3 separate regions of the Homo sapiens genome follow, and all the other regions are linked to region 3. Evidence: fine-mapped expression QTL. A gene starts in region 3. Each other region holds a variant in brackets. All regions are shown on one strand. Distances are from middle to middle. Region 1 has its middle 10 kb from the start of ARHGEF28. Region 2 has its middle 24 kb from the start of ANKRA2. Region 3 holds the start of ANKRA2 (ankyrin repeat family A member 2).

The links. PIP is the estimated chance that this variant, and not a neighbour inherited with it, causes the effect.
Region 1: its variant is fine-mapped to the expression of ANKRA2 in monocytes after LPS (Quach 2016, PIP 0.95).
Region 2: its variant is fine-mapped to the expression of ANKRA2 in stomach (GTEx, PIP above 0.99).

The regions. Positions count from the first base shown.
Region 1 is chr5:73,613,585-73,617,825 of GRCh38, reverse strand. No RefSeq gene overlaps it. Among named protein-coding and RNA genes, the nearest start is that of ARHGEF28, 10 kb to the left of the region's middle. The variant CA/A (reference allele first, on the strand shown) is at 1,849.
Region 2 is chr5:73,539,400-73,543,640 of GRCh38, reverse strand. No RefSeq gene overlaps it. Among named protein-coding and RNA genes, the nearest start is that of ANKRA2, 24 kb to the left of the region's middle. The variant T/C (reference allele first, on the strand shown) is at 1,884.
Region 3 is chr5:73,563,289-73,567,529 of GRCh38, reverse strand. ANKRA2 (ankyrin repeat family A member 2) reads left to right here and starts at 1,891. Exons shown (of 9, transcript NM_023039.5): 1 at 1,891-2,398. UTP15 (UTP15 small subunit processome component) reads right to left here and starts at 1,787. Exons shown (of 13, transcript NM_032175.4): 1 at 1,618-1,787; 2 at 96-268. The coding sequence starts at 185. RefSeq lists enhancers at 1,522-2,076, 1,648-2,207, 2,218-2,427, 2,448-2,497, 2,077-2,631.

The DNA of each region.
Region 1 (4,241 bases), 50 kb before region 3:
CTATGTTCATAGTTTCATTATCAGAAAGGCCTCACGTTCCTTTTACCTTCCTGCTTTACCATCTCTAGTACTGGCTTTCATTTTCAAGTTAGCTTCATAATTGCAGGATAGTTGTTAAAGCACCAGGCATCATAACTATGCTCCACACAGTAGAAAGGAGGAAACAGCAAGGGAAAAGAGGCATACCTCCCGGTCCAGTCAGCCTCCTTTACAGGATTTCCCTGGAAGCCTCACCCAACTCCTACTTACATCTCATTGGCTACCCCTATCCATTACAGGGGGCTGGAAACATGTAGCTGTTTAAGCTGAGTGCATTGCTGCTCCTATTAATACAGGATTTCTAGGAGTAAAGAAAAAGGGCTGTTCACTATGTCTGCCTAATAATTATGTTAGACTATGAAGGTTTTGAAAACAAGGCAGACAAAAGATTTTAAGTTTAAAAGAGGAGGATAGGTAGTTAGCAAATGACTTATTATCTATGAAGAAATAGGTAGAAAAGGGCCGGGCATGGTGGCTCACGCCTGTAATCCCAGCACTTTAGGAGGCCGAGGCGGGCAGATCACTTGAGGTCAGGAGTTCAAGACCAGCCTGGACAACACGGTGAAACCCCGTCTCTACTAAAACTACAGAAAAAAAAAAAATTAGTTGGGCATGGTGGCGAGCACCTGTAATCCCAGCTACTTGGGAGGCTGAGACAGGAGAATTGCTTGAACCTGGGAGCCTGGGAGGCAAAGGTTGCAGTGAGCCGAGATTGCACCACTGCACTCCAGCCTGGGCAACAGAGCGAGACTCCACCTCAAAAAAAAAAAAGTAGAAAAATGAATAAACTTAGAGTTTAAAAAGCATAGAAGAAACAAGCTTGAAAAACAAACAAGAAAAACTCTAATAGCTACTTTCTTCTAAAAGTAGCTGATTGATTGGCCCTGCTCCATTCACTCATTTTCAACCTTCTACGACCTTTTTCAATTTTCTGGAGAGATGTATTAACTCTCAACTATACACCACTTTTGAACCAATACAGGGTAGATTCCTAGTCTGTGTATGGTGCCAGAATCAGCCTTTCTCCCCTCTCAGTCATATGCCCATATTACTTTGGGGATACTATTATAATAACAGTTATCACATCATGCTTTAGTTACTTATCATTTGCTGGTTAAAAGGCAAGGTAATTGAGTAGAAAAGGCAGCAAGTACTTTGCCATCAGACAGACCTAACTTTCTACTTGCTAGCTTGACTATGTTCCTTTGGCAAGTTCCCTTAACTCTCTACAACATACCTTCCTCACCCTTAAAATGAAGAACATCGTATGACTCTTAGAGGCATTTCCGAGGTTGTGGTGAAGACTGGAGCCTACTACTCAGCAGAAACTTAGGAAATGGCCTTTTGTTATTATTACATCTTCCCTGCTGGATTGCAAGGTCATTAAGGGCAGGTTTGTTTGTTTGTTTGTTTTTTACAATGTGAATGTGTTCCTTCTATAATTCTTAAAAATTAAAGGCAACTTAAAAATTATTTACAACGTTATGGAATAGAAAAAAAAGTCTCACGTATCTTTACCTGAACCCCCAGTGTCTTAACACACTACTGAATGCCCTGGCAAGGGTCATTTCAGCAAAGAGAAGGTCACCTGGCAGGCCTCAGGAGAGCTCTAAGAAACAGCAGCATGCAGGCCAGCCCATGCTGGTGGAATGAATGTCACTGGCCTATCGTATTACCCCAGAGCCAGGTGGGAAATTATAGGAACTACACCACCCCCAAGGATGGCAAGTGACATTGTAGAATTCTCCTTGTGGGGCGTTTTAAATTCTGAGATTCAAAACACCTAACAATTGTTGCTTTTTTTTTTTC[CA/A]TGTTTCATAGTTTAATAAATAGGTTTTATATTAATGAAGATACCTTTAGTTATGCTGTGGCAAGAGTGCTTGTTTTAGAGCGTTTCCTGCCAAACACCCACATGGGACATTCCCTCCCAGTACCAGATGTGGAGATGCGTTCAGGCCTGGCCAGTCCCATCTCACGTCCCTTCCTCCTGGGAGCCCATTTGCAGCTAACCATGTTACTCAGTGTCTTCCATGGGTGGTTGTGATGCAAGATGCACAAAGCCTGCTGCAAATTCTTCCTCAGACCATCTCTTGCTTTTCCGAAGTCAAATTTCTAAGCCCAGGTCATTCCACCCTACTATCCCCTTTGGTGGCAAACTCTTCTGTTGCTCCTATCATTTTCCCTTTTGTCTCTCCCTATCTCTTGACATTTGCACATTGAAGCATTAAATTGCAGGGTGGAAAGGAAGACAATTTCTTCTGTGTATTTAAAAAAACTACAGAGCAGCATATTGTTCTCAGCACACATCTATGTTAAATGAATTCCCCTGTCCAGTTGATATCCCAAGGCTAGGCAGCACCAGTGACATTGTCAGGCCAGAGACCTGGGAAGACATATCACCAGAAGCCTTTTCCCATTACTCATGCCTGGGCCCCACCCCTGGAGATATTGATTCAGCCGATCCAGGGTGAATCCCAGACAATGCTCCCCAGGTAATTCTGTTAGACTCCTCCCTGACTCTGCCCTTGGGAAATAACAGCATAACTTGAATTGCCTTCTGAAGAGCTACTCTTGGCAATGGCTTCTAGGGAGCCACTTTCTCATTGGCCACTGGTCTTAGTCACCCAGTCCTGCGAGGAATTGTACTATGCATCACAATCTCAGAATCACAATAATGGCAACCAGTACTTATGCTTAACATATTCCAGGCACACTTCTAAGCTCTAACATAATTCCTTTAATCCTCATAACAACACTGTTAGATACTAGAGGTGTCTCCTTTTTGTCAAGGAAGAAACTAACAGGTGCTAAAGCCTAGATTCAAACCCAGCCCATATTCTTTTTATTTATTTATTTATTTGAGACATGTTCTGGCTCTATCACCCAGGCTGGAGAGTGGTGGCCCCCCATCTCGGCTCACTGCAACCACCACGTCCCAGGCTCACGTGATCCTCCCACCTCAGCCTACTGAGTAGCTGGGACTACAGGCACGTACCACCACACCCGGCTAATTTTTGTACCTTTTGTAGAGATAGGGTTTTACCACGTTGCCCAGGCTGGTCTCAAACTCCTGACCTCAATTGATCCTCCTACCTCGGCCTCCCAAAGTGCTGGGATTATAGGCATGAGCCACCGCACCCAGGCGAGCCCATATTCTTAACCAATATCCTCTATGGCCTCATGCAGTGAGTGTCAGAAGATCTCAGGAGTCATATTTTTTGTGGCCAAACCAACCCAAATCACTGTGCAAACCACTGCTACCCTGATCCACCTGGTTTCACCACCAACCCCAGCTCTCCCATCTCTTTGGTCTGCTCAGCCGCATAAATTCTGAAAACAGTATTGCAGTTCCCACTGTTTTTCTACAGATCTCCTAAGCCTTAGCTCAGGCTCTCCTCCCAGAAAACTTTCACCAACACCCCCACCCATGCCAAGCTGGGTTAGGCATCTTTATTTATACTTACCTCCTACTTTGTGCATATCTTGATCACAAACTTACCATGTGGCATTCTGATAGTCTGTTTCTGCCTCCATCTCCCTCAGCAGAGGGTTGAGTAAGGTCAAAAGCACGTTTCAGTCATCTTTGATTCCCTGATGCCTGGTGAAAGATCTTGTGGAAGAAACATAGAAACTGTTGAATAAACAATGTTGGCTTCAGTGATACTTCTATCCCTCAATTTACAGGAAGTGCTTAGTAATTTATCCCTGGGGTCTGGGGCAAGATGGGACATCTATCTTCCAAAGGCCCTATTAAGACTTTATCTCCAGAAAATACAGACTCATATTATTTTATCTTTTCCTATTTTCCCTTTCAACCTTCTGCCTCAATATAATTATGTTAATTTTTTCTATAGCTGAGGAGCCAGGAACATAATAGTCTTGCTTAATATGGAAAGGATAAGCTCCCATTCAAACTTCAACTTTTCTAACAGGAAAGTCCTCTTTATTACCTTTACATTCTCTTTTTTCTGCCCTACCTGGACTTATTGGTGGGAAACCTATTATAACAGGTGAAGTGGGGTTCCTGGGGGCTCTGGATGGAGACAGACATGTGACAGATGAAAACCCTTCACAGCTGTCATCAACATAAAGGTTGTAGATATAAACTTCCTTGTCTTTATCTTCTAAAATTTAAGGTCTTCAGAATTAGTTGTGTCTTGTGAAGTGCAAGGAGATACAGATAAAGGAGGTGAGTAGAAGCT
Region 2 (4,241 bases), 24 kb after region 3:
GTGTTTTTGTTCTTTGCTTTCTATTAGGTTATTATTATTTTTCTTAATTTTAAAAATTCTTTGTATACCATGAAAATTATATACTAAGAAATACTTTTTTATGCTAAGGTATATTTTAATACTTACATACTGAGATACTAAGGACTATTTAGTTGCAAGTGTTTTTTTCAGTCCATCAATGAGAGATTATTCAATTACAAGAGATAGAACTCAACTCATTTAAACAACAAATGAGCCTAGTGTGGTGGCTCACTCCTGTAATCTCAGCACTTTGGGAGGCAAGGCAAGAAGATCACTTGAGTCCAGCAGTTCAAGACCAGCCTGGGCAACATAGTGAGACCTCTGCATCCACAAAAAAATGTTTTTTTTGTTTGTGCTTTGTTTTTGTTTTTTGAGACGGAGTTTCACTCTTGTTGCCCAGGCTGGAGTGCAATGGCATGATCTTGGCTCAGGCTCACTGCAACCTCTGCCTCCCAGGTTCAAGCGATTCTCCTGGCTCAGCCTCCCCAGTAGTTGGGATTACAGGCACCTGCCACCATGGCCGGCTAATTTTGTATTTTCAGTAGAGACAGGGTTTCACCATATTGGTCAGGCTGGTCTCGAACTCCTCACCTCAGAAGATCCACCTGCCTTGGCCTCCCAAAGTGCTGGGATTACAGGCATGAGCCACTGCACCAGGCCTAAAAATGGTTTTAAATTAGTCAGGCATGGTGGCATGTGCCTGTAGTCCCAGCTACTTGGTAGGCTGAGGTGGGAGGATTGTTTGAGCCCAGGAAGCTGAGGCTGCAGTGAGCTGTATTCCTGCCACTGCCAGGCGGGCAACAGAGCAAGACCTTGTGTCAAAAATAAATAAATAATAAAGGACATTTATTGGCTCACAAAATTAAAAAGTGATTACAATGTTAGGTGAGACCTGATCTAGCAACTGAAAGATCTCATTTCTTTATTTCCCTGTCTTCTGCTTTCCACATGGTTGGCTTCATCCATCAGCTCCAGCAACTGCAAGACCTCACTCTCACTCTATGCTTTCCAGAGAGGGAGAGAGAGAGATTCTCTCTTCTGGGGGCTCCTGCCAAAGTCCTGGGATTTTTTCTTTCTTTATCTCTGTCTCTGCCTCTCTGTCTCTGTTTCTCTCTCTCTCTCTCTCTCTCTCACACACACACACACACACACACACACACACACACACACACTGACATGATCATATGCCCATCCCTGATCTAATCAGTTTGCTCAAGGGGGGACATGCTAATTCGTTTAAGTCAATTAGAATCCGCCCCCTACCCAAAGTATATAAATGAGAATAGGGAATTAAAAATTCCCCCAAGAAAGATGAGCTTCTGTGAATAACTTCAGGATCAGGGGGTTATGAACATCCGTTTTATAAGAGGAGACCAGTACAGCCTCAGAGTCCCTTATGAGTTTACCAAGTCATAGATTTCCTTAAGGCCTGCCTGAGCTTTTGGACTCAATTCCAGCAAATGGAATTCTGTGGCTTGAAAAGGCAAGTCCTCGTAACTGCACACAATAGAGAAAAGAGCTACTGATGCCAGCAGGAAAGATGAAATGCTAGCCCTAATTTTTAAAATTTTCATTAAATTTGGAGGCTAAAATATTTACAAAAATGCGATCCTGTTTTATATTTAGTAACCATAACAGTTTCCTTGTGAGGTTGTCTGTAAAAAGTCCTTTTCCAAGATTATCTGGCTTTCAAAGTTTGATATAATTTCTGCAAAATAAGATTCTAATCTCTAAAAACCTTGAATGCCGACTGGTAGTCATGGATAACTCTATTCAAACTGAGATTCGTAATTTTAGAAGTATAAACTACCATTCTGTTCTTTGTTAAGCACAATCGTCTTAGAACACCCTCCTTCTCTCTT[T/C]TCCTTTTGTGCATAAAGGTAAGTAAATAGATGGCTGGCTGATTCATCTTGAAACAACGTGTTCCAGGAAGTTTATTCCAACAGCCAATTTATCTTTCAGCTTTATGTTAATGTTTTCAGAGCAGGCTGTGTGTGTGTGTGTGTGTGTGTGTGTGTGTGTGTGTGTGTGTGTGTGTGTTTAAATTTACCAGTACTCCAGTGCTCCCAAAACAACGTCTCAAATTGGCTAAGCAGTGTGGGTTTCCTTTGGGAAATCACATGGTACTGAGCAGGAAAATGGTGGACATTCGTGGGCCTTTTTGACTCTCCACCTCCTTTTAAGAAAGCCAAAGAGTCCAGTCTTTCCACCCAAGCCTTCCTCTTCCCACCTCCCTTGAAGCTAGAGTACAAGGATGTGATCTGGGCTTAACCAGTCAGACACGCTAGCCCCAGAGTTTTGAATTGGTGGCTGCTGATCCAAAGCAGTATGAGAAATGAAGTCAGAGTGGCTACAGCAATAACTGGTTTCCGGGAGCAGCAGATGCTGCACAAAATGTGACGGCCATGTCCTCACTGGCAAGATTTTGGCTGTGGACCTGCAGCTGCCTGACCCTTTCTCCTGCCTGCTTCTCAAGATTTCCCCATGTTTCTGTGAACCAGGTGCTTTTCAGTCAGTTCCTTTTTGGTTTAACCAGAGTTGGTTTCTGATGCTAAGAATGTTGACAGTTACAAGAAATAAGGAGAATATCCCTACCCTAGACTCTGGGTCCCATTTTGCCACCTGAGCACCAGGAGTCCTTTGTGAAGACAGTCCCTCTGGTTCTGGTCATGTTTGCTGTGATGTCCCCTCCCCTCTTCTCCTCCTTCCCTCTTTCCTTTCTTCCCTCTTCCTCTCCTCCTTCTCTCCTCTCTGAGGGACCAGCATCAGAGACATTCACCACACACTCCCACCATCCCTCACTGGCTCAACATCCTCCACAAACCTTCCCTGAGAAGAGCCTACACCCCATACAACACAGCCTCCATCAGCAGAGCCCTGGGGCCACCCATTCCACTGGTTCATCCATCATGCCCAGACTGACCGCCAGGCAAGGACACAAGTTGTGCCTAGTTTGCAACCCTCCAAATACTGAGAAATGAGTTACTTTGGGAAATGCTTTGTCCTTTTTCTGAAAAGATCCTTCCAGGTTATCTTTGGCAGGGCTAAATTATTCCAGCTGAGCCTGACACCTGCTTCCTGAAGGCTCAGACCCTGCCGCTTTCCTCCCTCCCTCTCTCCCTCCCTCAACACTCCCTCCCTTCCTTTTCATAAGTATTCACTGAGCACCTCCTAGGAATGAGACAAGATGACGAGTCTCAACTCAACCCTCTGTCACTGAAGTCTCACTCCAGTAAGGCGCATTTACTCCAGTATGTCCTGTAACCCACAATGAGTCACTGCATTCAGTGCAGTCTAGGCTATTCCTTCTATTGTAGGTAACAGGAGTCTCTTCTCTTTCCACTGCAAAGGATGTGCCTTCAGATCATCTGAATCATAAAAAAGGTGACATTTCTACTTTTTTCAAAAATAAATAAAAGAGCCCTCCTAAGCAGGAACCCCTCAGTTATGTCACAAGAGCCTTCCAGTAACAACTTCTCTCTGTCATAGCCAATGGCTTAAAGGCACCCAAAGTCCCAGTAAGGTTTTCCCAGACTCTAGTTCCTGGGAAGCTTTACTTGGAAGACAGTTGCAGATAAACGCCAAGCAACCAAGCTGATGGGGAAGAAACCCACTGCCTGGGTCACGCTCAGTCCTTCAGGGTTTCCAGGGACCAAAGATTATGCACAAGAACAGCCCAGTCATATCTACTACCAGTCACTTCCAATAACCAACTTTGCATAAATGTCAATATGTGTCTGCTGACATATATACAACATGCACCCATATGCACATCTTTATAATAGTTTCATTATAATGACATACTTTCAAAAAGTTATTGGCATACATAAACATATGCCCATCTCCAATTAAAATAAACATATACTTAAGCTGTTTTTAGTTTCTGCTTCATAAGTTATAAATAGGCTAAACCATTTACAAAATAATAAAATCCAGCACTAATCTTTCTGTCTGCCGAAGACCATTTTCTGTGATCCTTACCTGAGCACATTTTTCAAGGCCACAGGACTGGGGGGTCAGATTTTCTGCATCTCCAGGTGCCTGGGTCATGCTGGTTTATAATCCTTCTGGCAGCTGGGCACAGTGGTGCATGCCTGTAATCCTGGCACCTTGGGAGGCCAAAGCAGGTGGATCACTTTAGGCCAGGAGTTTGAGACCAGCCTGGCCAACATGGTGAAACCCCACCTCTACTAAAAATGCAGAAATTAGCTGGGCATGAT
Region 3 (4,241 bases):
TAATAATTCTCTGTTAGAGCATCCAGAGTATAACATATGCTAGAGAAATTGGCATAAACACAAATCCCTTCTCCCTCATTACGTCCCACACTCACCTTATAGTTGTTCCAGTACAGTGTATCTTGGGTGATTTTTTCACCAAGTATAGGATATGTCTGAATAGCTACAGGCTTATAACCAGCCATAATTCCATATAATTGCACTATTGTCCAAGAGTCACTATTTTGGAATTGGTATTAGAAATAATTACAGTGACTCTGCCTTAATTCTGAAAAATAAAATATTTTATATACATATTATAAGCTTGTACACATAGTTGATTTTCACTCTGCTTTCTTTAAAAAGTCTGTGTGGAAGTATATAGATTAGAGACCAATAAGCCATTTAATTCTAACCCAGAAAAGGCAATCTATAGGAAGCAGGAATAATTAAAGTGAAGGCTATCATATCGCACCATCTATTCAGCTGTACACAAAGGTTCTCACACCTAGCCAACCATTTTACAACACTTAGGAATAAATCTAGCACAGCCTTACAGTAGCCAAACCAAAAAGGATCATGCTGGCTTTGAGTGTCCATTTTTTGGCAACAGGAAATATTAAGGTGAAACTGCAAATACAAGTTTCCTGAAACCAAGTTTAAGATGACATTTAATCTATAACAATTATAGTTACGGATTTGATTTCCTGAAAGCCTAAAAATGCCAAGAAGTAAGAAACACAAAGCTAATATTCTAATGTAGAAGCTTAAAATTAAATTTACTTTAAAAGGTTTAAACAGTAGGAAAGAAAACTGTAATAAAGCAGTCCTGAAATTAAATTCAACACTAAAGTGGCAGAATAGGATAAAACTTTTAAATAACATGCAATCAAGCCAAAACATTTTTCCAGAACGACTCAATTGCAAAAGAGATTCAATGTTATCAGGTAAATGATTCCAGAGGTGCTGCTCATCATCTATTCCAAAAAGCCTGAAAACTTTACATTAGTAACACCACGATAAATAGGTGTAACATATATTTAAAAGGTGCTTTAATGAAATACAATGACCAATGATTGTATTTCACTGGTCTTTGGGAACACTCTTCTGTTCATTAAAGTACCTACCAATGTGCAGGACACTGCTCTAGGCACTGGGGCTATAATGGTGAATGAAATAAAGACATGGTCTGTGCCTTTGCTTACTCCAATATACTCCATTTTGGCTGGTGACTGGCACCAGATATTAACCTAGACTCAGCCTTGACGTGTCCTTTTCTTCCTCACTCCTAACATCCAAATAGTTAACAAGATCTGCTGATTTTATCTCCCAAATATTTTAAAACTCCATTAGGTTCACTTCACCTGAGGGAGCCTCGTAAGCAAAGGCAAAGATGGAAATGTGTCCATTGCCTTGGAGAGTTGCTGATTACTCCGGGAACTAACAACGGTGGACAGGAAAGGGTGTAATCGCAGAGAAGAACCTAGGTCGAAGCTTAATTGAGGGGAACTTGAGCCGGTTAAAGAATTTGGCCACTCTCCTATATAGCCTGGGAAGCCCCAGAAGAGCATGCCAGATTAACACAGGAAGGCCGGGTGTGAGTGTGGGCTTCCCTCAATGGGAGCCGCCTTCACCTACCTCCACTGAGCCCCAAAGGGTCCGACGAGACACCTCGACCCAAGGACAATTAATCGGACTGTGCCAGCTCCCTACCCTGCACAGTTCAGCAGCACTGGCGTAAAAATCACATGGACCCTCAAGGAGCCGGCGACACACACAGCGAACCGAACGTCGCGCGAAGATGACGTACCAGAGCACGCTCATGAGACTCACGCAGCCCGGCGGCGCAGAGGCGGGTCAGGTGGGCGGGGCGATCTGGAGTAGGAGGTGTGACCGGAGGGCGAAATTGGGGCTTCCTCTGCTCTGGTGACCCAGAACCGTCAACTGAAATGACCCTGTCTGTGTAGTACTCCGGCAGGATGGGCCTCGGAGCGTAAAGGCGGCAAAAACAAAAATATTAAAAAAAAGGAGAGAGGGACAAAAAAAAGAAAACCCGAAAGTTTCAGCTGCATTGCTGCGGAACGTTTTTTAGCCAGAAGGCGAAAGAAGAAATCGGAAGTGACGTCGCGGCCAAAACAAGCCCGGGCTTGGAGGCCTGTACTGAAGCTGGCCTCAGATGGGAAGGCCCGACTCGCTGTCTGCTGTCGTCGGTGGTCGCGAGACCTTGCACTCTCACCGGGTCGGCCTCCAGCCCCTGTGCCCGGGATCCGCTCGCCGCGGATGAGCGAGAGTTTCTTCCTGGGACTTTTCGGGCACAGCTGGCCGGTGGCGACAGAACGGACTTTCTTTCCTGCAAGAGTCTCCCCTCCAGCGGGAGACAGCGGGCTCCTGTCTCGGGACGCTGGGACACCTGTCGCCTGTGAGGCATCATTTATTTTCATAGCACCTTCCTCTCCTTGTAGAATAATTCCAGGATCAGGAAGAAACGAGGGGCTCCTGTTATTAGCATCCACAGGAACTAGCATAGCTGCCCACTTTATCTCCGTAGACTCTCTATCCCTTCATCCCTGGGCTCTGACAGATCGAGGTGAACCTAGCTATCGATTGCCTTACCCCCTTTTTCTCACCACCACCTCTTCTAAGTCCTGTTACCCCACTCCCCTCACCCCCGCCTCCCTCTCCTGTTCTTCAAAATTTTGGCCTACCAATCAACTTTGCTTCTCCTCTCGTTAAACTGCTGTGCCAAGATAAGCGTTCATTTTCCACCCACCCCCTTCGCCTAAGCACATTTGCTATTCTCCTCTCGAAGACCTGTAATTCCATCTATAAACCCTGATTTGTAACATGGAAGCTGTTTAGAGCTGGAAAGAATATTAGAAAGGCCTATTTCAACACCTTTTTATAATAGATGAATTTCAGAAAACTTGTATTATTTATTTGTCCAGGAGTGGCCAGCTAGTTAGTAGCGATGTTGGGAGTGGAAAGCCAGGTCTAATCAGCAAATGTTAGAAATAGAAAAGAATATGGAAAAAATTGTTAAAGTTAAGATCAGAAAACATTTATGGAGCACCTGGTAGGACCAAGTACTGTTCTGTGTGCAAAAATTAGTAAGAGTGGTCCCCATCCTAGGGGAGTTTTCAATTTAGCTGTTATTTAAATGGAAATTGTCAAAAGGATGGTGAATGCTAAAATACAGATACATGCAGGGTGCTCAGAGAGCTTAGGGGAGTTGCACTTAGCCAACCGCTGGATAGGAGAAAGGGGGAGATGGTTCTTCCCTCAGGAAACACAGTTCACATTGTCCAGTCCCTTTTAAGACGCATGGACTAATGCATTGCACATCCATCTCCCTTTGAATCACTGAACTAATTTTCTTTTCTGGTTTCCTTCTTTTTGCCCAAATGTATTAACCTTCTTACTTCCTGCTTTTTTTTTTTTTCCTTACTATACTATGTGTTATTTATTCAACTCTCTCGTGGAGATTTTGGCTTTGTTTAGGGCTGCCTCATTTTAATGGTCAGAGTGATGGAGTCAGAAGAGCTGAGTAAGCCCTCATAATTCATGAGCTTCCTTTTTTACCCCTCCTAGGTGGACATATGATTACCTGACCTGCCTACTCAAAGGATTGTTATAAAGACTAATCTTTGAAAATGTTTTTAAAATTGTAGAAGGTGGTTATCTGTAAATGTATGGTTTCGCGACCCTTGCTCCACTGCGATCCTAATGCATTTTTCTTTTAATTCCAATTCCAATTTTGAAACACCCTGCACCCTCTCAAAATTCCTAAGAGGCAATTAACCCTAACATGAAAAAATTAACTGGATGTTATTAATTTCCTTTCTGTCCCAAATGATAATGTATCTAAGACAACTATACATCTTGGAAAGCCAATCCATAATCTACCTACTTTATTTTTCATGAAAACCTACATTAAGTTGCTAATGCTTAATCGGAACAAAAATTCATAAATGTACCTTCAGTTCATCAAAACCAAAGCTTTGTAAAGCCTTTCATGGTCTAGGAATCACAGGTGTTATAGATGACAATGCCAATAAACTTGGATACAACATGAATTATCATTTCTTAAATTCAAACTAAGGGCCACCTATATAAACATAGCATATTAAAGAACTAACCTTAGGTAAGAGATTAAAGTTTATTTTCATTGTTAGCCTGATCTTTTATCCATTTGGTGATATTCAGATATAGGAAATGGGAGAAACAGTAACTAAAATGTATTGGAATTTAATGATGGAGGTGAG